Linked DNA regions of Homo sapiens. The protein of the gene in region 1 purifies or fractionates together with the protein of each later gene. This does not show direct contact. Each region holds a gene or a part of one and is shown in the gene's direction. Other genes may lie near its edges. The genes, in order: NPY2R, TTK, ARFGEF3 and ARFGEF1.

What was found.
Region 2: the proteins of NPY2R (region 1) and TTK purify together in Homo sapiens (affinity purification with mass spectrometry; 2 studies listed by BioGRID and IntAct, with this or other methods). This does not show direct contact.
Region 3: the proteins of NPY2R (region 1) and ARFGEF3 purify together in Homo sapiens (affinity purification with mass spectrometry; 2 studies listed by BioGRID and IntAct, with this or other methods). This does not show direct contact.
Region 4: the proteins of NPY2R (region 1) and ARFGEF1 purify together in Homo sapiens (affinity purification with mass spectrometry; 2 studies listed by BioGRID and IntAct, with this or other methods). This does not show direct contact.

The regions. Positions count from the first base shown.
Region 1 is NC_000004.12:155,204,469-155,211,658, forward strand, and holds the start of NPY2R (neuropeptide Y receptor type 2), read left to right. Parts: upstream 1-4,167; 5' UTR 4,168-4,601; intron 4,602-7,190. UniProt on the Homo sapiens protein: Receptor for neuropeptide Y and peptide YY. The rank order of affinity of this receptor for pancreatic polypeptides is PYY > NPY > PYY (3-36) > NPY (2-36) > [Ile-31, Gln-34] PP > [Leu-31, Pro-34] NPY > PP, [Pro-34] PYY and NPY free acid.
Region 2 is NC_000006.12:79,999,785-80,007,660, forward strand, and holds the start of TTK (dual specificity protein kinase TTK), read left to right. Parts: upstream 1-4,864; 5' UTR 4,865-4,929; intron 4,930-6,045; exon of another isoform or gene 6,046-6,057; 5' UTR 6,058-6,059; coding exon 6,060-6,198; intron 6,199-6,320; exon of another isoform or gene 6,321-6,391; intron 6,392-7,876.
Region 3 is NC_000006.12:138,157,219-138,164,956, forward strand, and holds the start of ARFGEF3 (brefeldin A-inhibited guanine nucleotide-exchange protein 3), read left to right. Parts: upstream 1-4,720; 5' UTR 4,721-4,868; coding exon 4,869-4,953; intron 4,954-7,738. UniProt on the Homo sapiens protein: Participates in the regulation of systemic glucose homeostasis, where it negatively regulates insulin granule biogenesis in pancreatic islet beta cells. Also regulates glucagon granule production in pancreatic alpha cells.
Region 4 is NC_000008.11:67,333,782-67,340,781, reverse strand, and holds part of ARFGEF1 (brefeldin A-inhibited guanine nucleotide-exchange protein 1), read left to right. Parts: intron 1-7,000. UniProt on the Homo sapiens protein: Promotes guanine-nucleotide exchange on ARF1 and ARF3. Promotes the activation of ARF1/ARF3 through replacement of GDP with GTP. Involved in vesicular trafficking.

The DNA.
Region 1 (7,190 bases):
AACTTGGCTTAAGGAAAAAATTTTAAAATACCTCGCTCTTACTCCCTGCTGGATTTATGTGAAAGAAATAACTGGACAAAGGTACTGCAAATATATCCAAGATCATTTCTCACAGTTTTGTCCATAACAACAATAACTCATGAGAATATAATCATACAGTTTATGACTAGGCAACCATTAAAGGAAGGATGTATATTTATTATATTAAGGAAATGGAAATATGTTTTTGACATATTTTTAAGCTTAAAAGTTGAGAAGGCAGGCTACAAGTTAATTAAAAGTAGAGATTTTACACCAATATGCTGATGATGGTCATGCTGGATGATGAAATTTTAGACTTTATACAGTCCACCACTTACGCTCCCTATGTGGTTACAGTTGTCATTCTGTATACTGGGGCGGGGGGCGGGGAGAGCAGCTATTGGTTTCAGGACCCCTGCATATGCCAAAATCCTTGCATATTCATGTCTGGCAGTCGGCCCTGCAGAACCACATATATGAAAAATGGACCTTCTGTAAAGGCCATTTCACATCCGCAAACACTGTATTTTCCATTTGTGTTTGGGTGAAAAAGATCTGAGTTTAAGTGGACCTGTGCAGTTCAAACTGTGCTGTTCAAGGGTCAACTATATTTAGTTTTACATTCAAATTAACTACAACTCAATAAAATTTAAAATTTCAGTTCTTCAGTTGCACTAGCCACACGTCAAGTGCTCAATAACCACATATGTCTAGTGGCTACTGTACTGCACAGCCCAGATACAAAACATTTCCATTATTGCAGAAAGTTCTGTGGGACTGCATTGTTTTAGATAATGCCTATTTCTTCTATGATGTTTTTGTTTATTCTAACTTTTACAATGATTATAATTTTTATAATCAAAATAACAATGAAATTATTTATACCGTGGGGGAAGCATCTTTGCTGTTAAAATGAAATTACAGTGCAGGAAATCTATATCATGATTTTCTTTATCTAATAAGTATGTATCACAAGTGGTCCTCAATACTGATATTATTGAACTTTTTTAATGGAGAGCTTTTCTGAAATTTCATCTAGCTATCTAAAATATTTGGATTGTTCAGTTATTCAACAAATCTCTTACTTCAGAGTCTCCTTGGGAATATCTATTCAACCAGAAATGGAAAAGAAAATTACTTATTTGGCAACTAATCTTTGGCTGTATTCCTTTTGTATTTCTGTGCATTGAGAAATGGTCTATGGGGTAGGGGAAATGGTAGTAGAACTATGTTTTAAATATCTAAGGAGATTTGTCAGACATCAAATACTAATATAACATGTTACAATATTGGAGGCCCATGATGAGTCAGGCTGCTATCTATCTATCTATCTATCTATCTATCTATCTATCTATCTATCTATCTATGATTTCTTATTTATTTTGGCCTGTCCACTAGGAGTTTTGGATTTTTAAAAATTAATTTGGTTTATTTAAAATTCAGAAGATTTTTAACAATATGGATTTTGCTTCTCTTAAAAATCGTATCTGACAATACTGAATCAAGATTTTTGCAGGCCAGCTGAGTGTACTCTGAGAAGCAATCTCCCCATTTAGCTATAGCATGTGTTTTTGTGCTCTTCAAGGTGTTATGGCAATCAACATTTTCCACTCTCTCCTACAACCTAGCATGCTGGTCCATTTATGTCATTGGCCCTAACCATGCAGGCATCTGAGTTTGAGTCTGTTGTCTATTTGAAGAGCAGTCACAGCACATATTCTGGTTAGAAATGGAATTTCCTGAGCAACTAAATGATTTGATACAAAAGAAATCAAGCATCAATAATCTTGTCCTATTTCAATTTGGATTAATCGATATTTCACCACCACTTCCACAAACTCCCAAACTCCTGTCAGTGTCACAACTGGGTTTATGGACATTCATCAGAGTGGTTCATTGTTACTACAATACACAGGATATGTATGCACATTTAAGGATATGAATTAGACTGTGATGCACAAAAGTGTCATAAGCTAATTCCCACAGCTCTCCTTGATAATATGATACACTATGAAGTGACTTTCATTTCAGTTTATCAGTTTCTCATCCAATTCTGAACTTTATTAAAGGACATTAATCATAGAGACCATTTACTCTTTTGAGGTTGCTGACTAGATGTCTGTGGAACTATATGAATCTACTAAGACAAACACACGTCTATAAGAGAGTGAGGCAAATAGTTGGTTATGGCTGCTAATACGCTTCTGAAAGGCAATTTTAAAGAAGATAAAATGTGTTTTGTGCAATCAATGTCAGTGAAATCAGTTGAATTTTCCAAAGCAATTGCTCTAAAAGACAACACTCATCTGTTTTGCTGGATATTTGATTTGTTTTTGTGGTCGTTGTTTAAATCCATTTCTACTCTTTTAAAGTTATAACTTATTGGTATATGGTTCATTCTTCACCAATGCAGATATATTGAGAAGAATGGAACCTGTCACATATAACACATATTTGGGCAAAGAGTACTTTCTTAAGGAAAAAACAAACAAAACAAAACAAAACAAAAACAACTACTAAAAGACTTTAAGTGGAACTGTGTAGAACATGTTAAATATTTCCATTTCTGTTTACCTTTGTTTCTAGGTATTTGAAAAGCCCAGGCTGCTTTGTTTTATAAACAATTCCTATACTCCTGTGGGCATAATTCTATATTAACTGAAGATTAATTTCAGGTTACACTGTAAAAATGCCTTACAAATGCAATACTATTAGGGTGTGGAAAACCCTGAAGGAACTGAAAATCCAATCCATTTGAGGGAAGCCTTTAATTAACATCTTGGAGAATATGTATTACCTTTTTAAACAGATAAATATTTTTTTTCATTTTAGAGTAGCGGAATCTAATCTTAATCTAATCTTTTAGGAGTATATTTCAGAGAAATTCCAAGCACACCAGTATGACCATCCTTATTTCAGAAATGACAATGCATAGAGGAAAAGTAATGTGTGCAAAGCCTCCGAAGAGGATGGTTAAGTAAAGACTTAGGTTACCAGTATCAGGCTTTCGTTTTTGTATGTAGGTAGCTCTACTGCCTCCTCTTAAAACCAACAAAGGAAAGAGAGACTGGCTGCAAACTTTTAGAAGGAATGGCTTCGAATAGGGTTCCTGGGAGGAATCCCGAGGAAATAGACGCTGCTGCTCTGCTGATTGTCTCCACTATCCTGTTTTGCTCCTACCCACTAATCCAGCCTGGGAGGCTCTGGGCATTAGCGGAAGGCTTCACCACAAGGAGACAGGAGCGAGTATTCCATAGGCATGCGCTCCTAGTGGCACGAGTGGCTTGGGTCAGGATCAAAGAGTGAAGGATTCGGAAGTCAGCTATCTGGAGAGAGAGAGAGAGAGATTGTGTTTTATTCGTGTCCCATAGCTTTCCTATCCTATCCCTATCCTAGCTTTTAACCTGAGCCAGAGCTCACTACACAGGTTCCTGGCTATCGAGTCTGAATCTGCACTACTCAACTTATAAACTGTCTGCAGACACCTGTTAGGGAAATTGCTGATCATGGGCAGCAGGATCTGAACTCGCTTTACCTTCTCGTTTGGAGCACAGGGACCGCCCAGCTAGAGGAGCACCAGCGCACTGCGCCCCAGCCCTGGGCGAGGGTGCGGAGGATTTGTTCTCGGTGCAATCCTGCTGGCGCTTTTCCGGGGTTCTGCGCGGATCCAGCTCCCCATCTCTGCTCCTACACACACAAAAGAAAACAACTCTCGATTGGAAGTTGTGGAATTTTCTCAGCCCCTACGAGGCGCGGGGATTCTCCAGCCCCGGCCCTCCTCCCGCCAGCCTGAGGTCTCCTTCGCTCGCCTGCCTTGCTAGGGACCGCAGTCCCTCAGCCGCAGCTGGGTCTGTCCGCCCCGCCTTTGCCCTCGCCTTTTCCCGGGGCGGATTTGGTGAAGTCGGCCTCAAGTCCAGGAGGTCTGTCTTCGCCGGGCCAGCTCTCGCGGAACTGGGGGGTAGAGAGCAAAGGGAGAGATTCGTGGAAGGGAAGGGAGGTAGGGGTGGCGCAAACGCCCAGAGTATCAAACTTGGGGGTGGCACAGTAGGTGACAGCAGCAGCTGCAGGTGGTGGCTGGGGACCCGCGAGGGGGCGCCCCTCTGGGTAGGGTCTGGCTGAGCGGGCTTGCAAGCCCGGGAGGCGGCTGAGAGACCCTGGACACTGTTCCTGCTCCCTCGCCACCAAAACTTCTCCTCCAGTCCCCTCCCCTGCAGGACCATCGCCCGCAGCCTCTGCACCTGTTTTCTTGTGTTTAAGGGTGGGGTTTGCCCCCCTCCCCACGCTCCCATCTCTGATCCTCCCACCTTCACCCGCCCACCCCGCGAGTGAGTGCGGTGCCCAGGCGCGCTTGGCCTGAGAGGTCGGCAGCAGACCCGGCAGCGCCAACCGCCCAGCCGCTCTGACTGCTCCGGCTGCCCGCCCGCGCGGCGCGGGCTGTCCTGGACCCTAGGAGGGGACGGAACCGGACTTGCCTTTGGGCACCTTCCAGGGCCCTCTCCAGGTCGGCTGGCTAATCATCGGACAGACGGACTGCACACATCTTGTTTCCGCGTCTCCGCAAAAACGCGAGGTCCAGGTCAGTAAGTGTAATTCCTAACTCTGATCACCTCCTGGGAACAAGAAAATCCCTAGAGGAGCGCTCGGTTCCTATGAAGAGGGACATGAGGAGGTCCTCATGAGTGTATGGACTTTTTCCTCCTCCTTTAGGCGGGAGGTGGCGATTTGGAGGATGTAATACCATCCCCATTTTCTACTTTCTCTAGATTTTCCCTTTTCTGTTGAAGATTATTTACTATTTCCTTGACCCTTCTTTGAGATAGGTCATTATCTTTCCAGAACAGTAAGTTGTTATTGTTCCTGCCTCTTTAAAAATCAAACACTTGTCTAAAGCAGAAGGTCCTATTGGATTCTCCAAAGCCGTTCAAGAGGAGACACATTCATTTAAGCGTTTGCTCATTTTCCATCAGAAAGGCTCACCCACTGGCAGGAGCTTTTGGTGGCAGGGAAAGAGGCAAAATTAAAAGCTTTGAGACTTTTTGCAATAGGTACACATCATTTAAAATTCAGTGACATGAAATGGAGATGCTGTTTCCAAAGAAAGGCTTCCCACACCCTTTGGTGAATATTTTCAACTTTCTACTGATTAGCCAAACAATCATGTCTTGTATGTAGCATTCTTGAAACTTCCCTTCTTCCCCCTCCCCTGCCCCCATTCCTAGAACTAATTAGTGTAGGCAAATGCAGGGCTTTTGATTTCTGAGACTGATTTCTGAGATATTTTTCCCTGGGAAAAATGTTCTGGAAGACATTGTGCTTGATAAGATGTGTAGGTTTACTAAGGCCAACCTGTGACAATATTGTTGCAAAAAGCCCCCACAGATTTAAACATCTCTCCTCAAAGCATGAACTGGTCTCTGACTCAAATAACTTGAGGTTATTTGAATCTCGGGTGGTGGGCTGCTGGGGGAAGTCCTGAAACTCTTTTCCTATTCTGCAAAGAAATGTTTCTATGACAAAGTTTCTAAGGATTCCCTTATTCAGGAAAATTGTACCAGTAAAAGTTCTCTTTAAATGTCTTAAAGTAATGTAAATATCTCATTTTGCCTTATTTCAAAGAAAGGTTATTCCCTTGTCTGCTTGCTGTTTCCTTTGTGTGCTTTTGATGGCAACTTCCTCTGTGTACCATTTTCCTTTCCCACTTTTCCAGAAGTGCTGTCATGAAATGATGCATTTTCTGCTCTGGGTAATGTTTTGACCTGGCTGAAGGGAGTAACCTGCTTAAGCACAGCTAACACTGTCTATATTCTAAGAGCTTGTAGATCAACAACCATTCCTACAGAGAAGTTGTAAATAAAAGGGCTTCAAAATTTATAAAACAAGACTGAGAAGAAAAAGCAAAGCAAATCAAAAAATCAAGTATACTCTTCCTCCTAGTAACCTTCAATCTCATGCTTCCTCTCAATTTAGTCAGGTATAACCTCCAAACTCCAGCCTCTTGGAGTCTCTTTAATTCTGTAAATGGCTAAATGGCTTGTCAGGATTGAGTAACTGTACTCTAAAACCAGTCTCTTTCTTAGTCTAGGGGATATGGTGTGGGCTATCAAACATACACTCCAAGATATGAATGATTTGTTTCAGATTTCTCTAATTACTAAGGAGTGGAGGCACATGTGAAAAGAGGCTGGGGCTCCTTGGAATGTTCTATGTGAAATTTATGCAGAGGGAGCAGGAATATATCAGTACGGCAAACACCTGAGTACATGGAAACTCTCATGTCTCTCTGTATAGTAAGGCTCCTGTGGAAGGGTGAGTGGTGAGAGACAGAGAGTGAGGGAAAGATGCGGAAAGAGAAAAAAAAGTGAGATAAATGGAGCGGGAGAAAGAGAGTTGGGGGAGCAGAAACCTTTGAAACAGAAAGTTTTCTTTATGGGTTATACTGACAATTTAAAATGTTATAATCAGGAATTAATTTAACAGGGTCTCAGGACAATTTTTTTTTTGTATAAGCAGTTATCTGATTAAGAATAAGAAAATAAGCATATGGATGTTATGTCATAGGGAAGAACCCTACATAGGCAGTTGTCTTCAGTAAAGGAAAGGATCAAAATTATACTTTCCATTTGGCTGACATTGATTATTCAGTATAATTGTGCTTTCCTTTAGCTTTATATTTGTTCTGACAAATTGCTGAGTACCTTTAATATGCTATATAGTGTGCTAGGGATTAAACAATGGAGGAAGAAGGTCTAGGTTCTGTCTTCAAAGAGATTGCTGTGGTGGGTAAACGAAGGAAAACAGTCACAACGTGGCATGTGGTACATGCGGCATTAGAAGTGAGCACAGGGGCTTGGGGTAACTGAGAGGCTTCCCAGTTTAAAACGGGGAGGGCAGAGAGGCATGAAAAAGGCTCAGGTGTTACTGGAATTGGAAGTAAGGCAGTATGACAGAAGTGGACAGTATATATTGGGCTGTCAGCAGAGATGAGGCCAGAGGGATATGCAGGGATGAGTTCAAGAAAAGCCTCGAATGTCAGGCTAAGGAGTTGGGATTTTCTTCTATAGGCCAGTGTTGTCAACCTGTGGGTGCAGATCCTTTGGTGGGAGAGCAAATTAATGAAAGCATACATGTATGTTATTATCAGATCATGCAAAACAGAATCTATTCAAGAA
Region 2 (7,876 bases), on another chromosome or scaffold:
CATTGGCTTCTAGAGATCTTTGCTTCCAAACAGTTCGGTAATTGATCCCAGAAGGGGTCTAAAATTCTAAAATCTACATTGAGATTATAGAGATTAATAGCTTCCAAATTCTACCTTTTCCAAAAAGGTAACACTTGTCCATCCATTTCTGGCTTTCTATCATTGCTTCTACTTATTATGACTTTTCAGAGATTGCCAGCAATGTTTCTGGGATTATATTTGCACGTTTTTTTTCAATATCCTGCTTATTTTCTTCAGGATATTGTGGTATATTAACCAACTACGTGAGGCTCTCTCTATATAGCAGAGACTGAAAATGTATGGAGATATATATATATATATATATATATATTTTTTTTTTTTTTTTTTTTGAGACAGAGTTTCGCCCTTATTGCCCAGGCTGGAGTGCAATGGCGAGATCTTGGCTCACCACAACCTCTGCCTCCCAGTTTCAAGTGATTCTCCTGCCTCAGCCTTCCGTGTAGCTGGGATTACAGGCATGCACCAGCACGCCTGGCTAATTTTGTATTTTTAGTAGAGACGGGGTTTCTCCATGTTGGTCAGGCTGGTCTCGAACTCCTGACCTCAGGTGATCTGCCCCGCCTCAGCCTCCCAAAGTGCTAGGATTACAGGCATGAGCCACTGCACCCAACCTGGATACATTTAAAAAAAAATTATGGCCAGGTGTGATGGTAATCACAGACCATCACAATGCTTCCCTGCACTTTGGGAGGCCGAGGCAGGTGCATTGCTTGAGCTCAGGAGTTTGAGACCAGCCTGGGCAACATGGCAAAACCCTGTCTCTACAAAAAATACAACAATTAGTCGGGTGTTGTGGCATGAACCTGTAGTACTAGTTACTTGGGAGTCTCAGGTGGAAGGATGGCTTGAGCTCAGGAGGTAGAAGTTGCAGTGAACCAAGATCACACCACTGCACTCCAGCCTGGGTGACAAAGCCAGAGCCTATCTCTCTCTCTCACACACACACACACACACACATACATACACACACACTTCATTTGTGTCAGAGAGTTTGGATGGAATTTAAATGTCTTTCTTATATAGCCTGTCCTGTATTTATTTTTAAGATTGTCAGTCTGACTGCTATTCTTCATATTGGAGAAAAAAGAAAAATAGGAACTGAGAATCCTACTTTTCTTCTGCTGTTTGTTAGCATAGTTTATTGCCTGCATGATTAAATAATACCTGATGTCCAAGTAGTGGTCCTAACTCGTCACTGCTGTTTTCCTTTGTAGAACATAATCTAAGCTGTCATTGCTGTTTTTCTTTGTGATCTATGAGGTACGTTGGTACCTCTCCTTGGCATTATTTTCTTTTCTTTTGGGTATGGCTTGGTCCATTCTGTGATAGTTAGCTTTCCTGACAGTATTCATACAGGTCTCAACATTCTTATGGGCTCACGTCACTCCTAAATGCACTAAAATCAGCATACACTAGTAATGTTTTATCCAGAATAAACCACCATAAAGCAGCACACAACTGATTGCATGCTGTAAGAACTGGATTTATTATTGATCAGAAATTTAACTTTTGTATATGCACAAAATAAATTCATGTATAATAATTAGTTTCTAAAATCAAAGTTTGGGCCTTACTGAGCTTGTGTAACAATGACCTCAATAATTGAAAAAAAAATTCCTTGGAGGGGATTTAAATAAATAAGTAAATAAATAATGGAATAAAAAAGGCAGCTGTGCTGACAGAGAAGTCAAAGATCAGCAAAAAAGTTTCATGATGATAATGACAAAGTTAAACATTCGAAACTTTTGTTTATGTGACAAAAATGTGAAACTTACCATCTTACAATAAGTCATAATCTTATGGCTAATTTTATTGCTTTGTGAAAGGCTTGACTCTGAAAATGAACAAGTTTATTCACTGTCAGATGCAGCTGATTTAAAGCCAAATGAGAAACTGTGATGCAAGAAGTATACAAATGTGTTAAATAAAATAGGATTCTTAAATACTCTAATGGTTGTAAATATTAGTATTTAGCTAACATTTATTAAGTGCCTACAAATGTACCAGGCACTGTTCTAAGCACTAAGGATGCTGTAATGAACAAAGTAGACAAAAATTCCTGTATTATGGAGTTTACATTCTAGTGGGGGTAAAGTTTGGAGAGTCAGAAAATAAACAAGATAAATAAATAGGTCAAATAGGTAAAACTGTAGGATTTTACAGATCACCGCTGTCCAGTGGAAACACAATGTAAGCTATATATGTAATTTTCAATTTCCTACTAGCCATATTAAAGTATAAAAAGAAACAGGTGAAATTAAATTTTCATAAACTTTTTATTTTTGAATAATTTTTAATTTACAAAAAAATTCCAAGTGTATTAAATAGTACAGTGAATTGCTGTATACTGTTCATTGTTTTTCTGTTAAGATCTCGCATTACTGTGATGCATTTTTCAAAACCAAGAAACCAACATTAGTGCATTTTCATTAACTAAACCTCAGACTTTATTTGAATTTTACTAATTTTTCAATTAATGTCATCCTCCTGTTTCAGGATCCAGTTTATGATATCACAGTGCATTTAGTTGTCATGTCTTCTTAGTCTCCTCTGTGATGGGGTGGTATTAATTTTAATAATATATTTTATTTAACTCAATATAGCAAAAATATCATTTTAACCTGTAATTGATATTTTTAAAATTATCAATGTTTATTACTTTTTCTTATTCAGTCTTCAAAATCCAGAGTGTATTTTATACTTAACAGTACATCACATTTCATACTCAGACACTTTCACTGGAAATACTTCATCTGCATTTGGTTCTCACAAAATTTACAGTTGAAAAAGTAGGTTCATATACTTACATTGTTCCAAGTATACTTAAAAGTCTTCCAATAAATTCATGACTAATGCAAGTTTAGAAAAAAGAAAGCAAAAAAAATTACTTTAAATAGTTTAAAAATAATCCCATTAGATATCAGTTTTCAAATTTAAATATAAATTTAATTAATCAATTAAGGTTAATTGATTTAAAAATTCAGTTCCCAGTTGCACTAGACATACTCAAGTGCTCAATAGTCACAGACCATCACAAGGACTTTTGATTTTATTCCGAGCTAGAAAGGGAGCACTGAAGGGTTTTGAGCAAAGTAGTGACATAATCTGATTTAAGATGACTTTGCTATGTCAGAGAATAAATTGAGGTGAGGCAAGGGCAGAAGCAGGGAGACCAGCCAGGAGGCTACTGCAGGTAACATCAGTTAAGTGATGCAGATGCCTTGGACTGAAGTGGTGGCAGTGGAGGTGGGGAGAACTGGTAGGAGTCCAGGAATCTCTTGTGCCAGCCCTGACTCAATCTGCTTATGAGTTAGATAAGGGATCAGGGATGACACAAAGGTTTTGGGGCTAAAAAATTTAAGACAATGAATTTGTCTTTTATAGATTTTGTAAAAAAAACAGGTTTGGGTAGGAAGATCAGGGGCTTGGTTTTGGACATTTTGAGTTCAAGATGCGTATGAGACATGTAAGTGAAGATGTTAATAAGTAGGCAGTGGATATCTGAGTATGGAGTTGAGGAGAGCTCAGCTAATGATACACATTTGGGAGCCATCAACATATAGATGGTATTTAAAAATAGAAGACTGAAGGAGACCACCAAACGAGAGTACAGAAAGAAGTGTTAGGGTGAGGTCATCCAGCAACAGTATTTTAAGGAAAATGCAAGCTTTGTGATCAGGCCGCAAACAGATCAACGAGAATTGGAGGAATAATAAACTCTTTCCAGGCAGAAGCATTAGATGCAATGGTGCAAAGGTAAGTGATTAGCCAACCATGGTATAGCAAGTCATTTTGCTCTGCTGAAGCAGAAATACTAGCTAGCTGACACAGAAAGATGCATTAAGTGATTGAGAAGGGCTCTCACGCTAGCTGGGTGGCTATCCAGAGCTGGGAATGTGAGGGTTCTAAGGATAGCTTTGGAGTTAACAAGTGACAGCTGCAGTTAGTTTCCTATACATACACAAAACCAACCCGTCCTACCACAGAATATATGTCATAATGCTGGCACAACAGACACATCCCTTTTAGTTTTGCAGACGAGGAGTAACCGTTGCCCTGGACCACAAAGCCACTTAGCGGCAGAGCCTCGCACCCGCGAAGATTATTACTAGGGAGATGTTTTTACCCCTGAGGACACCTGAGCCCTTAAGTGGGGCAGGCTTCGAGGGAGGGGGGCCGATAAGGCGACTTCAGACAGGGCAATCACGATGGGCGCTTGAGTTCTGCGCAGAATTTTGACAAGGGGGAGGGTCTTGGCTTGAAGACAGAGCGTGGAGTCATTTAAGGATAATGGAAGGGCATAAGCAGAAGCTCAAGGATAAAAAGCACTGAAATTCTTGAGCTGGCGGCAGGGCTGAACGTAGCTCAGTGAAAGATCCTTTCTTGCCACATCCTCTCTAAGCCAGGCTGTGAGAACCGCGGGAAACGAAGGAGAAGGGTGGCGGTGGGGTCAGTAAAGGGCCGGCCCAAGGTGCATCTTTTAGGTCCTGATGCTAGGAGCAGCCGTCCCTGCCCCTATATTCCTCTCACTGGGTAGGTTTGCTCGGGAGTGGCTACCTCCCAGGCAAAAATTCGGCCTGGTTAAACTGGAAAGACCAGGAAAGCCCGCCCACGGGCGTCCGGGGAACGCCTGCAAAGTGCCAGCACCCTACCAACCCAGGCGCCGCACGGGTGGGGTCGCGGCCGCAGGCTCTTCCGGGGCGGGCCTAGCCTGACGCAGGAGGAGGGGCGGCCCCCGTCGCACAAGAACCAATCACGACTGTCGCTTCTACGTGGCTAGCATTGACCAATAGGAGACCGTAGTGATAGCGACGGGGAAATTCAAACGTGTTTGCGGAAAGGAGTTTGGGTTCCATCTTTTCATTTCCCCAGCGCAGCTTTCTGTAGGTAAGTTCTGTCTTACCGGTGCACCGGCGCACTGAGGAACAGCCGCAGCCGGTGTAGGGGCTCATTGTTAGCGCTGGTCGGTGAGGGGTGGGGCGAGGTGGGGGCAGCTCGGAGCCAGGTATGCGACGCGGCTAAACGAGCTGGAGGGGGAGGGGATGTCTCACTGCCTCAGCGGGTCTGGCCGGTGGGGTGATGCAGGAGGTTTTGTTGAGGAAGTAAGAAGTGGGTGTGGCCCACGCTGGAAAGAAGGGGTGGTGGGGTACCTGCGCACAAGATCGTTTTCCAAAGGACAGTCTCTCTTGTTTTGGGGGTTAGAACTGGGAAAGAAGCGGGTGGCCGTGATCTGACAGTTATCTTTCAAACCTGACTTAAGAGGTGGAGTGATACCTTGCTGCAACTTTATGACTTTTTTTCATTGTTAAACCTGAAGACGGGGCAGCATTGTTATCAGTGACACTGAGTTGGTGTTTGAGAGTCACAAAGATACGATTAACAATAAGACTGCAGACACTTTATTGAACAAACACCACCACCATGCAGATAAGCAAGTGCTCAGTACCAGTACAATAGTTTCTTAGTGTTAGATTAAGGTAGCAAATCGTGATTCTGCTAGATATGCACAAGAATAAATCTGCGGATTTCCTAATTATCAGTAAAGCCCCATCATGTTTATATTCTGCTTTGAAAGCACTTGCACTGGAAGATTTACTCAAGTAAAGCAGGCGAATAAAGGAATTGTTATTCCCATTGCCAAACGAATTCTTTATGTCTATGTCACTACCAGAATCCAAGCAATCTTTATGTGTATGTCGCTACCAAAATCCAAGCAAACACTCTATCATATTTTTTTTAAGTGACACTAAATTTGCAGATTTCTACAGTGTGACGTCATTGATGTTATATTGGGGGAAAAAGTATACTTGGCCTATGAAACCTTGGTGAATAAATTACAAAGATGTGTACCTTGTTGTTGTGCACTTACCTCCATTAATACTAGCCTAATAATAGCTGCATTTAGATGTGTTCACAAAACGAATGCTTTAGTCGTCTGGGTTCTAAAAAGCTAGTGCATTTTTTTCTTTGATGCTAGTTAAAGTAGGAGTTATGACTGTTCAGTTTTTTTCTTAGAAATGGAATCCGAGGATTTAAGTGGCAGAGAATTGACAATTGATTCCATAATGAACAAAGTGAGAGACATTAAAAATAAGTTTAAAAATGAAGACCTTACTGATGAACTAAGCTTGAATAAAATTTCTGCTGATACTACAGGTGAGTTTTTCTTTTCTTTTAAGTTAGTAACTGTTTGTTGGGTATCCTCTAAGGTAAAGATATAGTACTAATCACTTTATTTATAATTTACTCATGTGTTTATTGTCTTTCTCCTCCATTAGAATGCAGGCTACATGATGGCAGGGTTTTTGTCTGTTATATCCACAGAACTTTGAATGGTGTCTGGCACATGGTAGGTAGGCACTTAAACATTTATTGAACAATGATTAATGGGTGAAAATGCCCAGAGTTTAATACTCTAGCTCTTCTAAAAGTATTAGCTCAGAAGCCTGATTCTTTACTGTATTTCAAATGGTTGGTCATTTGAATGGTGACCTTTGGATAATTTTCTTACATCTATACTAACCTTTAAATAGATGAGGAATTGAAAATAAATGGAAGAACCTGTGATCTAATCATGGTGGCTGACTGTTCACTTTGAAAAAACCTAGAAAATGATAGTTTTAGTGTTAAGCAAAATCTTAATGGAGTATAATTGTGCTTAATTATGTCACTAACAAAGGTTGTACATCAAGGCAATTGAGTATTTTAAGTACTGAGGAAGATTCAAAGATGCTTAAAACCATAGTTTCTTTCTAGATGAGAATTTATATATTCACTATGCTACATTGTAATGCATGCTGGGCATCATAGGAATACTAGCATGATAAAACACAAATGTTTTATTTGTTGATTAGAGGAAGAATAGGGTACTCAGGCATGAGGAATGCATCTGCAAAGCCACAGATGGCAATGTGTGTTTTTTAGACATTTCACAGACTAATTTCTTAGGAAAGCAATAGGAGGTAAAAATAGAAAATTAAGGTCAGACCAAATTAAATTTAAAACGACAAAGCAAAGTTATGCATGCACTATATTTTAGTAGAAAGTAGAAACAAATTTTATTTATAAAAGTAAAGATGTAGGCTTTGTTGAAAGTGACTGAAGTTAATAGAAGGAATAATAGCTTCTCTGGAAATCTGAATTTAATATTGCTTAGTAATAACCAAAATATCCTGAACAGAAGACTGACATTCAAGTTATCTTTTTAAAAAACTAACACTGAAGAAAGTAAAAAGTACATTTCAGTGTGAACATTTTGTCTGAAGGTTATTCTTGCTGTTTCTGTTGGTTGGGGTTCCACAGAGAGAAACCTGACAGTCACAAGAGGTCCTATAAATTCCAAAGGTCTAGACCACGGTAACTATGAGTTTGTTGGACCAAGAAATTATCAGGGCCTCTAGCAGAAATTTAGGTTACTTGGAGAGAAGAAAATGATTGTCTCATTTGTTTATTTTTTGTAAAGCTGGTTTGGTTTTACAAGTAAGTATGAGGTATACAGAGATAATGTTGAATGGTTAAGGTTGTAAAGAAGGTTATGTTAGGACTGGAGCAGTAGGTTTAATGAATAAATCATTGATGGGAGAATTTTCTAAGTTAATTAGTACAAGTGGCAGTGGGAGAGATTTAGTTTTCTATGGATAGGTAGGATGCTAAAATTATAGTTATCCTGCAACAGCATAAAATTTTCTTAAACTACATACAATTTTTAAAGGCTACTTACAAAAAAACTCACTTATTTCCAAATGTTTTCTTTCCTTCAAAATATATAGCTTTTGGATAAAGTATACCTTCATAAAAGATAAATACACGATAAATAAGTTACTTGTATTTATAT
Region 3 (7,738 bases), on another chromosome or scaffold:
AGGAAACAGTAACATTTAAGGTATATGGTCACTTAATCTCCTGGGACCTGCTGCACCAACCTCAACCACTGACTCAGGGTTTAATTGAAGAGAGAAGTAAGTGTCTATGCTTTGTAAACCACTGTATTGTTGGGTCTTTGTTAAAACAACTTAGCCTTTCCATCAAATAACATGTACATGTTGCATCGTACTGAAGTTATTGATTGTTACGAGGAAAGTACTCATTAAATTATATGAACTCAGGAACAGGATTCATATTTTCCTATTTGAAAAGCAATCTCATTTGGCATTTTGAAGATGATATTTCACCAGAAGAATCTGCATATAGGACTAATTTTTTTGACATTTTAAACTAACTGAATTTGGATCTACAGGGAAAAAGTAACAATATATTTCAAGATGTTTAATATATCCAACACTAACCAATACATTTTAAGTAATCACTGTGGTTACTATGTGTGCACAATTTTGTAACACATAAAGAGAAAATTAATGAAGACATTTTGAATAGAAAAATGATATTAGTTATATTACGTCTCTGTTATAAACTTTAATAATTTCAAAAAGAGAAATTTGAAATATTGAGGAAAAAATTGATAAAAGATCTGTTTTCCAAAATCCTGAATCCATATTAAAGTTGATACTCAAAGAAGAAAGCTAATCTCTAATACTTTAATACATTGAAGAATGATTATAAGTTTATAGCCATTTTAGATTAAGATTAAAGAAGACTTTCCATTGCTAAACAGAGTTCACTGTTGTTATTAATAGCATTCACAGCAACTTATTTGTGTGAGCCAGAATTTTTAAGCAACAAAACTAAAAACATTGGAAAGAAATAGGCATCACAGAGCAAACCACTGTGATTGTCCTCATGCCCGCAACCCAGAATGAATTTAGGAACAGGCAAGTATGCCTGCTGCAGTGAATGAAATCATGCTTAGTAGTAACTATTCTAGTTAACAGTATGTACTGTTTTATACCTAAAACTGTTGTTTCAGTTTTTTAACATATCTATACATGTATGTAAACACTGGATGATAATGTAAAGCATATTTTCTACTGTGAGTTATAGAAAAAAAGTAGAAAGGTGTTTACTTTCCTTCATAGCCATCCACTGGGTTGTTTATCCGTGTGATTTCACCAGCTCTTAATCCACTGCAACCAGGCTGCAGTCATCATTTCTCCCGGGTCTGGCTTCCACGGGATCCTAACTCTCTCACATTCATTACATCATTTTCTGTGTTTATCTTTGTCCTTTCTCTGGATGTTGACCTTGTTGCCTGGATACTACTTTTATTTCATTTTTGTGCCACTTTTTTTTTTAGAATAACACTTCTGATTATAAAAGTAAAAATATTTAATGAAAAATAAACTCACCTATAAGCCCATCAAAGATAATCACTTAATATTTTGTATGTACTTTTGATAGATATGTATGTACATATATGCATGTATTTTTGAACTTATATATACATCTACATCAAATATTTAAATAAAATTGGAATCATGTAGTATACAAAAGTACATAGCATTTTACAATTTGCTTACTTAAGTATATAGTATAAGCCACTTTTCTTTTTTTTTTTCTTTCTCTGTCTTTTTTTTTTTTTTTTTTTTTTTTTTTTTTTTTTTGAGACAGTGTCTTGCTCTGTCGCCCAGGCTGGAGCGCAGTGGCGAGATCTCAGCTCACTGCAACCTCTGCCTCAGGGTTCAAGCACTTCTTGTGCCTCAGCCTCTTGAGTAGCTGGGATTACAGGCATGTGCCACCACACCCGGCTAATTTTTGTATTTTTAGTAGAGGCAGGGGGGTTCTCACCATGTTGGCCAGGCTGGTCTCCAACTCCTGACCTCAGGCGATCCACCTGCCTTGGCATCTCAAAGTGCTGGGATTACAGGTGTGAGCCACTGCCCCCGACACCACTTTTCATATTATTCAATATTTCTCTCCCACATTATTCTTTTTAAATTAAAAACAATTTTTTTTTTTAGTAGAGATGAGGTCTTGCCATGTTGCCCAGGCTGCTCTCAAACTCCTCGGCTGAACCAATCTGCCTGCCTCAGCCTCCGAAAGTGCTGGGATTACAGGCATGAGCCAACATGCCTAGTCCCCCACATTATTCTCAAAGGCTATATAATATGATGCTTTATGAATATATCATGGGTTATCTATCCATATCCTTGTTGCATATTTAGTTTTCTCTTTTTTTAGAATTGAAAGACACACTGAAATGCTTGTAGAAAGATCCTTATCCATTTCCATAATCACTTTCTTAGGATGAATTCCCAGAAGTGGAATTGTTAGGTCAAAGCTATACCTATGCCACATACACATCCAGGCTCCCTCCCTCCAGGAATGTAGTACCAAGTTACACTCTGACCAGCACCCAAGACATGAGAGGACCTTGTTGTTCAGCTCCTTCAATAACATTTAAAAAATCTCTCAGTCAATTTGATTAATAGAAAATAGCATCTTATTTAAAAGTTTGTTCTCTTTATTAGGCACTTGAACATTTTTTATAAGTTTATGGGGTCATATGTATTCTCTCCTCTGTAAACTGACTTTATATATATTGGCTTTTTTAAAAAAGAAGGAGCATTTGTTTTTTAATTCTTTGTTAAAGCTTTTTTTTTTTAACAAAGCTATTCAAACTTTATATGTCTGACATTAATATAAACATTTTCCTAGTTTGCAGCTTAAACGAAATTGTTTTTAATTGTAAAACTAGTAAATACTTTAAAATAGATTCAAAAATATAAATCCACATATAATTAAGATTTAGAGGTATCATCTTTTCTTCCTTCAATCCATCCCTCAGAGTATCATTTGCTTTTTAATTTTGTATGAAACTTTTGGCATAAAGGTCTTAAATATTCAAATAGTCAAATCTATTGACCTTTTTTCCTTCAGTTTCTGCCTTAGTTTGTTAGAAATAATCTTAATGCATTAAGATAAGTATATTCACTTATGCTTTCTTCTAAACTTTTCATCATTTAATTCTTAAATTTAATTTTTAATACATTTGTAATTTATTTTGCTACACGATATAAAGTTGTGATCTATATATTTTTCCAAATAGTTAACAATTTTCTTTAACCCAAGTACATTATCTGCTGCGGCGTTTTTACTTTTTTTTTTTTAAACCTTTCTTTAAATGATGGCTTCACTGGGCGTGAGGGTAGCGGTAGAAGCATCCTTGGGGGCTGGGACTTTGTAGGTTTTGCCTCCTCAGTACCAAGAGCGCCGAAGGAGTAGTCTGACATCCCCATGTGTTGGACACCCTCCAATGGCAGTCCCTCCCCTGGCTGACCCCCTACACCTCGGATTTCGGACTGCTCCTCTCAGCCTCCTCCCTGGGCCCTTGCTCCTGTACCCATGATTTGAGAATTAGGGGGGCCGTCACTCCCTCTCTTGTGCAACCTTTGTCAAACTCGAGGCATCAACAACTCCTATATTTACCACCCTTCAAATACTGGCATCCCTCCCAGAGCTCTATCCTGAGTTCCTGTCCATAAAAAAAATCTACAAGTATCTCATTATCATTTCAATCTGAACATGTTCAAAACTGAACTCATATATCCCCCCTAATCCAAACCCTTTTTATCTTCTCTTCTTTAAAGAATGGGGCCACCATCCTCCCAATTTCCTAAACAAGTAACCTGGAAGCCATCCCATATACACCGTCTCTCCCCTATTGTGTCATTAAATCCTATTGTTTCTACCCTTCAATATCTCTTGACATACTTTCCTTTATTCCCCTTCTACCCACCCTTGGCCTAATTGGTTTCTAGATTCCTGCAGAACCTTTGTTCTCCCAGCTGCCAGTCTGCCCCTCTGCAGTCCATCATCCTCACTTCCACCACAGGAACATTTTCAAAGAAAAAGGAAACACGGGGTGCCCTGTCACACTGCCTTCCCCACCGCCCGCGTGAGTCTCCTGGGGCTCCCCCTTTTCACCCCAATGAGAAGCCCTCTGCTGCGGCGGCCCTTGTGCACCACATTTTTCACAGGGCAGCAATTCAGCGCAAGAGAGGATGGGAAGGGGAGGAGATAGGGGTTTTTAGAAGGGGCTTTGGATTCAGGACGTGTTTGGAGTCTAACTCTTGTTGGTCTGGGAAGTAACCCAGCCTCTCTGGGCCTGGTTTCCTTGGGCATATCAAGCTCTACCCCAGCCCCACCGCAGCCCACCGCCCGCCGCGTGTTGAAAGCTTGACTGGAGTTTCCCTGCAGGCAGGGGCACAGTGTGTGCAACGCTGCATCGCCCGAGCCTGGCACAGGGAGTGGCCCAAAAAAGCTGTTAGTGACTGAACGCAAGAATTTTCCGGTTAGCAGACGACGGGATGCAGCGGGCGCGGCGCCTGCACCACGCTGGGGGTCCCGGTGTCCGGGCTGGGCCGCTCCGACTCCGCCCGCGGCCACCGTCGGCTCAGGGGGTGCGAAGACCGCGGCGAGGCCCCTCCCCGCCTGCCTCCCGCCGCCCGCCGCGGACCAGGCGCTCCCTCCCGGCGGCTGGCGAGCCAGCTCCGGACATCCGTCCCCACCTTTCCGCTAAGCGCGGCGCCCGCGGGGCCTGCCTCGGCGGTCAGGTCAGCGGCCTCCAGCCTCACTCTCCGGCCCCAGCCCGCAGCCGCCGCCGAGCGGAGCGCACCTGACCCAGGCGGGCGGGGCGGGGCGGCGGGCGGGGCGCGGGGCTGACGTGGCCCGCGGCATGGAGCGGGCGTGATTCATCAGCATCCGCGCCGGGGCGGCATGGGGGCGCGCGCGGCGGCCGCCTAGGCGCCCAGGGCCAGGCAGCGGCGGCTTCCCCGGCCCGGCTCGCCCGCGCTTCTCTCCCTGTGGGCGGCGGCCCGGCGCCTGGAAGGTCAAGATGGAAGAAATCCTGAGGAAGCTGCAGAAGGAGGCGTCCGGGAGCAAGTACAAAGCCATCAAGGAGAGCTGCACCTGGGCCCTGGGTAAGCGTCCGGCACCTGCTCGCCGCGGCGGGAGGGCCGCGCGGCCGGGGCTGAACCCGCGCCTCCGCGCGTGGGGCTTTCGCGGAGCGTCGGTCATGGGTGCCGTTCTGGCGATTGCGAGAGTCGCCTCGGGAAATTGATGTGGGATTTGAGAGTCTTGGCTCGGGCGTGGACATCAGCCGCCTCCCCTCCGGTCTCTTTCACTCTCCGAAACCTTCCTCGGGAACCGCTGTCCTCCCTGCCTGGCGGCCCCCTTCTCCTGGTCCCGGCGCTGGGGACGATGCTTCCCCATCGCCGAGTTAGGCAGGACCCGGAGCCGGTGCGAATCCTGGGGCCTGACAGCGAAGCGCCTCTGGGGAAAAGGGAAGTTAAACCAACAACCCCGATGTCGAATCCTTGGCGAGTGGAACCAGGAAGGAAAGGCTTGTTTAATTTGATTTTCCTGATAGAGGTCAGCTTGCTTAGTGTTAGCTTTCCTGGTTATTGCACATGAAAAATAACATACGGGCGGGGATCATGTTACCTCTGCAATTCTGTTGTGGTCTGCCCTTCAGACAGGTGGGATTTTAGGGCTGTGAGCTGTGCTAGCGTTGAAGTAAGTTCCAGGGAGCAAATTTGTGTTTCTCATCAGACTCAGGTTGCAGAACTCAGCAGCGGAAAAAAACGGAAAGACATTTCAGTTAGGCGGGGTTTGGGCAATCAAAATGGTCAGGATGGTAATGCAAATAGATCAGAAGCATACTTTGGGTGATGGTGATGCTTTTTAGAAAGGAAAGGCCAAGAAGAAGCCAGCGCAGCTAGCTCTATGGGCTCCTCTCTCTGCCTTGCTGGAGCCTGATGTGATGCCTCAGTTGCCACTCAATTGAAAAATGAAATTGACTCCCTTTCCCTTGCAACCAAGAACCATCACTGTCTGTCATGACACTGTGTGTGCTTTGATGCAGCCTGAGATAGAGAAGAGCCTTTAGCAGGTTTTCCACTAAATGTAAAATTTTGAGAGTGGTTTAGGTGACTCTTAATATGTAGATGGTCTTAATTCACATATGTTTGGGTGTGTGTACAGGTAATTATAGCAGCATCTTTTTTTAAACCTGTGCCTATCATCACAAAATTGTCTAGAATATTGTCTAGGAAGTTTGTCTTGTAGGTAGAACCAGCACTTGACCATTCTAGCTTACTGTTAAAGAAAAATGGACCAGAAATCTGAGAGAACAGCAAGGCTCTTAAAGCCACAGTACTATTTTTGCCGTTGCCATTGTCATTCAGCAGCGTGATTCGAAGCTAGATTCCAAAATGCCTCTAATGAAGGGTCACAGATGGCTGGGTAACATGATAAAGCAGGGCCCAATTGTGCTTTAAACATGCCATTCCTAGTATTCGTTATTATTTTGCTGCAAATTAAGCAGATTTAGATAAACAGGGAGGAGGAGATTAATCTAGTATTTTAATAAGTTTAAATACTGACATCAACATCTTATTAAGTGAAACCACAACGTTGCTGAGTTTAGGTCCTTTAAAGCCACTGGGGAGGCTGAGCATTGAGGCAGGTAAATTTTTCGAGTCAAATCTGAAAGAAACCAGCCTGAGTGGATGTACTTCCTTTCCCAGTGATTGTTCTGTCATTAGCAAGACAAGACAGAAGTGCATGAAATAGTTAAATAATAGTGCAGGGCATTCATTGTGCAGTTGGATTGGGCAAACCAGGAAAACAAGTCAAAGAAGGGAGGATAAATGTGTTGTCCATGGATTGGGGGAGAATTGGTGTGAGCTGGTGGGGCTTTTGAAGTAGATTTCACTTGAAGAATGGGGAAGCTATGGGTTCCTTCTTTCCGTCGCTTCTTTATTTAGGAAACATTTATTAAGACCTCCCTGGTAATGAGCAATGGGATATATGGATGAATAAAATGTTCCCTGTAAGGAATTTGTTAGAAGGGCATGCTGGAGACATGAACAAAGGCCTATAGGGATAGGTTTTCCTGTTGCCTTTCCCACTCCAGTCCATTTCCACTGCCCGTCACTGTTTAGATTACAAAACACCTGTCACTCTTCAACCCCCCAATTTATTTCTAGATTAATGTGTAAATTCCTCAGAATGCTCTTCAGAATCTAGCCCCAGCCTCTGTTCTTGTCACTCCCCAACCAAGATTCAACAATCTAGTGGCAGTCAGCTGCAGCACTTTGTTGAACATGCTGTGTGGCACACTTCTCTCTTTGCCTTTGCTCTTGCTAGTCCTTCTGTAGGGAATTCCCTTTTCAGACTTGGCAAGGTCCATCTTGTTTAGGAAACATTCCCTGAGCTCCTCAATAGGATAAGTTGTTTGTCTGGGTTCAGATCCTTGCCTTGATGACTCTCTTAGAGTACCTACTATTTTGGATAATAGTTGATTGTGTGCACAGGTAGGCTCTTACGGGCAGTGTAATTGACAAATATGTTGGGTGCAAGAGACAAAAAAGCTAGTTTAAGCTGAGCTATACAAAACGGGATTTATTTACTCCTTTAACTAAAATACCCCTTACAAGAATAGCTGTGATTTAGGAATTAGACACTGTTTCAGGGATCTTGTCCTGCTCTTTGTGGGTTGACTGACATGCTCTGCGTGGGTCTCCACAGTTTTGGGCTCATGAATCAACACATTTAGACCATCTCATGAAAAGAGGCAACAATAAACTTAGACCATCTCAGGAAAACACGTCTCATCCCCCACTTAGACCATCATGTGATGGGGAGGTCAACCGCTACTTAGGTCATCATGGGAAAGGGGGGTTACCTCTCACGTAGACCCTC
Region 4 (7,000 bases), on another chromosome or scaffold:
ATGTGACTATCCAGGGAAGGGCTAGGCACCACAGTACTTTATTTACTTGAGATGTATGAGGCATTTTTTCCCACATTTCGTAAAGTTACATTTAGCCTCCAACAAAGCAAAATCTCAGTAATCTCATGGTAGCTAATCCCTGGTGAACTTTGTTTCTTCCCTTGCAGTCTATCTACATCACCACCCAAACATAAATTGATAAGCATAACTCATTTTGTCTTTGCAGAAAGTATATTTTGCAGGAAGATGGTATTCCCACAAATGTATTGTCCTTGAAGACCGTTAGAGACTTATCTTCTCCACTTCACTATTGAGACCTGGGCCAGGCCCGCTCTGGTCTGTTGGTAATCTATGTGGCCATTAAGCAGGATGGGAAAGCAAACTGAAAAGGCCTGATTTAGTCCTCTCGGTTCTATAGATTGTGAGTGGGTAGGTGTTGGATGGTGAAGATACAGAGATCATTTTGTGGGTGGTGTTATAACCCTTCTAAATACCCACCTGTCTGTCTTCATTCTTTCCCCAAATATTTATTGAGCATACAGCTGAAGGGAGATGGACAGTTAACAGGAAAATACATAGTATGTCAGACATTTAATCCTTTTTTGTTTGAAAATCATTGTATTGGCATGTGAGTAGATTTCTGAGTATTGCCATTCAAAATTAATTCAGCTACCTTTTAACATATGGCCAATTATAGATGGATTTTCTGTAAACTATACTCATGAAATTACAGCTTATTGTGTATTCTTAAAACTTTTTTTTTTGTCAAAAAGTATAACTTATGAAACAGCATGTAGATTAGGGGAAATTTTACTTCATTAAAACAATCCATTCTCAAAGACTTCTCAAGGAACTTTTATTTTCACAGAAAGAAAAATAAACCTTTAAAGGGATGCAGAGTTAATGTAAAACGTTTTTCAAATTTTCTTATGTCAGACTTCATTTTGAAGTAAAGAATGGTTAAAAAAGAAAGAATCCCCCCCCCCGCCCCACACTGTTACACTGTTACAACTGATAAGAAGCCCACAGGCCCAGGAACAGCTCCAGGTTGCCCTCTTTTGGTACCTGCCCTACTACAGCTCTCTGCAGAGAGAGGGAGTCTAGGCTGCCCTAGCTTAGCCTGATCCATTCCTGCTCTCGAGAATCCTGACTTAAAAATAGTCTGGCCATCTGCTGGCAGATGAGACAACAGCTGAGCTATTTTTAGTTTCAAAGAATTTAGGATTGTTGTGGGATTGGGCTTGAAGGTAGCATTGTTTATCTGCTAGGGAGGGTGCAGTTGGGACTTATTCCAGTAAGGCCTCTAAGTTTCAGGAGTTTCTTTTATGTTAGGGTTGTGACTAGTTCAGCTTATGCTTTCTGACATCGAATGAAGAGTATCTATGAAGATACTCTGCAAATGTTAGGATGAAAGAGTTCAAGGTTGGAAACTGTCACTGATACACAATAAGAGTGAAAAAGTTGAAGAGCTGACCAGAAGAAGGTTTTAAAGGGAAGGGAGGCATATACTGGCAGTGATAAGGGTGGGTTCCCAGGAGGTATATGGGAAAATAATGGAGACAAAATTGTTAGGGAAGTAATTTTTGCATCAGACAGGGTATGAATTTATATTGTTCATCATATTATAAAGTGATCCTGCTGACTTAGTTTTCTTATATAAGAGTCTATTACCTGTAATTATAGTTTCATCCAGAGATACAATATTGAGACTCAAACTTTTCAGAACTTGCTTCCTTCTGCCCCTTTAATCCCACCCTTATTTTTGTTGGTGGAGTTATAAAAAAGATACGTCAGTGGAGGGGAAATTACTTGAATGCTTTGGGCCCTGGTTTTATGCTACTTTTGGTAACTATTAATTTTCATCACTCTTCACCATTTATGAAAAAATGATTTATCCCCAAACAATATCCTGCCATCAGTGAACACCTTAATTATAATTTAAATCCATTAACAAATCTCCGTTTAAGCCTTCTTTGATATCTAAAGTAAAAGGTGTTTTCAGTAAGCCAGGCTACCTGAATTTTTGAGATGGGTAGAAGAAAAGAGTATAATTAATGACATAACCGAAAGATTGATCCTATTTGTATTTGTTCTTTTCTTTCACATTTCAGATTTGTTTTTAGGACACTTGCTCTAGAATAGTGTTGACTGAAATAAATGTTGCAGAGTACAAGTTCTTAGAGAAGCTCTTTGAAGAAAATAAGTTTGGGTTGAAAAAATAAGTTTGGATTATAGTGTGTAATCTGTTTCCATTTGGGAAATTTATAATGCACATGAACATAGTTAAGATTCTGAAAAGTCCTCCAAGAAAGACACCTGCTCAATTTTGTTTAATGAAGTTCTTCCTGAATTTATGTGATCCTTTTTCATTGTTTGCTAACTCAGTTAACTCCCCTAGGATATGTTGTTCCTTGGAACTTACTTTGGGACACTGGGGAAAGAAAGACAAGTACAATAACCCTAACTACTGGTGAGACCATCTTCTAGAAGAGGTTTGGGGAAATCAGTGCACAAACCTGTGTTTCTCTAAACACAGGTTTGGGGAAAGTAGTAGATGTGTTAATAGTGTGGGAAGGAGAAGAAAGTCCGAAATAAGGAGCAGTAGAAATATCGAGATCAGAGGACTGTTTGCTGACTAGCTTTCTTTCCCACCCCATCTAGGGGCAGGTAACTCATTTGTGTCTCTTGGTAAGGTTTAACTTAGAGAGAAAATTGTGAATGGGAAATAATTTGGGGAAATATTTGTCATAATATTCCTCACATAATGGAGGAAGGAAGATATTTGAAAAGGAAAAATACATGAGTAAGTTATTGTTGCCATTCCGAACTAGGTATATATTTCAATCAGATATTTGTTGAACTCCTCATATGTTCCAGATACTACTTCATTGCTGGGTATACAGCAGTGAACCAAACATGCTTTCATAGAACACACATTCTAGTGGGGTGAGGGTGATAGTAACAACCTTATATCATCAGAAGAAAGAGTTCAGAAGGTTAAAGGGAAAAGGGTGGGAGTACTGATTTAGTTAGAGTTGTCAGGAAAGTCCTATCTGTGAGATGACATTTGAGCAAAGAAGTGACATAAGTGGGGGATTTAGTCTTTCAGATACTTGGATGAAATAGAAACAGGAAATAGCAAGATGGATGTGTGCTTGGTGTGTTTCAGGATGCAAGGAGGCTTGTGTGGCTGGGAGAGAGACAGAGAGAAAGATGGGAGGGGGTGGGCAGATTTGGGATTTTAGTGACAGCATGTTTATGTTTTTAAAGGCTCACTGTGGCCAGAGACCATGGGGACTTAGGCTAAGTTGGTGGTGGTGGAAAGGGTGATAATTGTGTGCATTTGGAATATATTTTGGAATCCACAGGATTTGCTGATGGGTTGGTTAACAGAGGGGATGGCATCCAGTCTTGTAGCCAGAGCTTCAGGGTAGAGGAAGATGGCATTCACCTCAATGGGGGACACTAGGATAGAAAAAGCCTTTGGGAAATAGATTTTTAGACAGTAAAACATTTTCATCCTGCCTTTTATATGTATTTTAGAATGTTTTAATGATAGAATTTTCAGATGATATAATAGGATATTTTCTACTGAGAATAACACAAAATAATTTCAATTTGTTTTGTCTGTTTTTTTTTTTTTTTTTTTTTTTGAGACGGCGTCACGCTCTGTCACACAGGCTGGAGTGCAGTGGCGCGATCCTGGCTCACTGCAAGCTCCGCCTCCCGAGTTCACGCCATTCTCCTGCCTCAGCCTCTCGAGTAGCTAATCTCGTGTAGCGCTACCGCGCCCGGCTGATTTTTTTTGTATTTTTATTAGAGATGGGGTTTCACCGTGTTAGCCAGGATGGTCTCGATCTCCTGACCTTGTGATCCTCCTGCCTTGGCCTCCCAAGGTGCTGGGATTACAGGCGTGAGCCACCGCGCCCGGCCTGCCTTGTCAGGTTTTTTGCAGGGAGGTTTTTTTATCAAAGAAATGAGCCTTTCACTTGTCTGGTTCTTTTCCTGGAATAGGAACTTTGTGGATGTAGTGAAAGATCTCAAGGTGAAGTTGAGATCCTCAACTTAGAGCCTTTAGGTGGGCCCTAAATCCAGTGAATGGTGTCCTTTTAAGGAAGAGGAAGGGACACAGTCACATACAAAGGAAAAAGTCCATGTGAAAATGGAGACGAGATCAGTTACTGCTGCCACATGCTATGGAATGCCAGAAGCCACCAGAAGTAGGAAGAGGCAAGGAGGGATTCTTCCCTTTGGATGTAGCATAGCTCTGCTGTGACCTTGATTTTAGATTTTGGGCCACCAGAACTATGAGAGGAAATTTCTGTTGTTTTAAGCCACCAAATTTATGGTAATTTATTAAGGCAGCCTTAGGAAATGAATGCAAGTTCCCTTTTATCCTAACTTTTCAGACCCATTTTGATTTCTTTATTCAAGTTTCCACTTACAGAGTCTACTGTACATATGTTTACACAATCAGATCCTGTCTTTGGCTCATCTCTGATTGTTTCATGAATCTAGAAAGCAGTTATTCTGAGGCTTTAGTGTGTTATAAGTAGAGGCTCTTGAAAAGCTTCTTAAAAGGTCTGGGCTCAAGTATTTAAGAATATTTAAAAAGTTTTGTGTTCTGCTTTTGATATTTTGTTTTGCTTAGACTTAGACTTGATGTAACTAAATTTGTTTATATAACCTATGTTATCTTTTCATTCAGAAAAGTCTTTGAAAATCTTTAAAATGGCCGGGCGCGGTGGCTCACGCCTGTAATCCCAGCACTTCGGGAGGCCGAGGCAGGTGGATCATGAGGTCAGGCGTTCGAGACCAGCCTGGCCAGCATAGTGAAACTCCGTCTCTACTAAAAATACAAAAAGTTAGCCGGGCGTGGTGGCAGTGGGCGCCTGTAATCCCAGCTATTTAGGAGGCTGAGGCAGGAGAATCGCTTGAACCTGGAAGGCGGAGGTTGCAGTGAGCCAAGATTGTGCTACTGCACTCCAGCCCGAGAGACAGTGCGAGAGTCCGTCTCAAAAAAAAAAAAAGAAAATCTTTAAAATATTTCATATTACCACTGGCGTGTCTTTAGGAAACGCCATGTGAGGCTATTAATTTTTCTTAACAAAAATGTGTACATTGAGACTTCATTTAATCAGCTGTTTAACAATCCTCATCTGTCAGAACTTTGCTAAGAAATAATAAAAATATAAGCAGTCAAAGTACATATTTTGAAGGCCAAGCACTTTATATAGAAGAGAATCTCTATGGCTTTTACTCAGTCTGTATGCTTTTATAATTCCAGTAAGTTTGGTAATTTGATATTTTTTATAAACGAATCCTTCAAATCATTTTCAAAAGTGTAACTACAACAATAAAATTTACTGTGATACGGGGCCCGGCGTGGTGGCTGGCGCCTGTGATCCCAGCACTTTGGGAGGCTGAGGCGGGCAGATCATGAGGTGAGGAGATCGAGACCATCCTGGCTAACACAGTGAAACCCCGTCTCTACTAAAAATACAAAAAATTAGCCAGTCGTAGTGGCGGGCGCCTGTAGTCCTAGCTACTTGGGAGGCTGAGGCAGGAGAATGGTGTGAGCCCGGGAGGCGGAGCTTGCAGTGAGCCGAGATTGCGCCACTGCACTCCAGCCTGGGTGACAGAGTGAGACTCTGTCTCAAAAAAAAAAAAAAAAAAAAAATTTACCGTGATACTCTTAGCTGAAGATAAATAACTACTGTTAACTTTTTGAAAAACAACTTTCTGATAAATGATTTACATACTATAGTATTTACTTTTTTTGAGTGTAATGATTTTTGGTAAATTTACTGAATTATGCAGCCATCAGCATAAATCCAGTTTTAGAACATTTCTATTACCTCAATAAAATCTGTAGTGCCCTTGTTGTCATCCCTAGCTTCTGGCATTCACTAATCTATTTTCTGTCTTTAGAGTTGCCTTTTCTGGACATTTCATGAAATGCAGTTATACACAGGTGGTCGTTAGTGTCTGGTTTCTTTCAGTATGTTTTTGAGGTTCATTCATGAAGTTTGTATCCACACTTCATTTCCTTTTATTGATGAATAGCATTCCATTGTTTAGATATCCTATATTTTGTTTATCCATTTACCAGTTGATGGATATTTGGGTTGAATGAATAATACTGCCATGAATATTTGTGTATAAGTCTTTGTGTGGACGTAAACTGTTATTTGTCCTAGGTAGACAAACTGGGAAGGGAATTGGTGGGCCACTTGATAAATTTATGTTTAACTTTTTAAGAAACTGCTAAATTCTTTTCCAGCCTACATACCCACCAGCAGTGTATGAGGCTTCCCGTTTCTTCAAATTCTCACCAATATTTGTTACTGCCTTTTTATTTTTAGCCATCCTAGTTGTTATGATGAAGTGTTACTTCATTGAAACACTGTTAACTTTTTGAAGTACAGATTAAATATCCTTTATCAGAAATGCTTGGGATCAGAAATGTTTTCAATTTTGTTTTTTTTTTTTTTTTTGGACTTTGGAATATTTGCATATACATAATGAAATATCTTGGGGATGAGATTGAAGTCTAAACACAAAATTTACTAATGTTTCACATCCACCTTATACACAATCCAAAGGTAATTTTATGCACTATTCTTTTTTTTTTTTTTTTTTTTTGAGACGGAGTTTAGCTATTGTTGCTCAGGCTGGAGTGCAGTGGTGCGATCTCAGCTCACTGTAACTTCCGCTTCCCAGGTTCAAGTGATTCTCCTGTCTCAGCCTCCCAAGTAGCTGGGATTACAGGCATGCGCCACCATGCTCAGCTAATTTTGTATTTTTAGTAGAGATGGGGTTTTGCCATGTTGGCCAGGCTGGTTTCAAACTCTGACCTCAGGTGATCCGCTGACCTTGGCCTCCCAAAGTGCTGGGATTACAGGCATGAGCCACTGCACCTGGTCTTATGCACTGTTGTTAATTTTGTGCATGAAACAAAATTTTGACTGTGTTTTGACTGTGACCCATCACGTGAGAT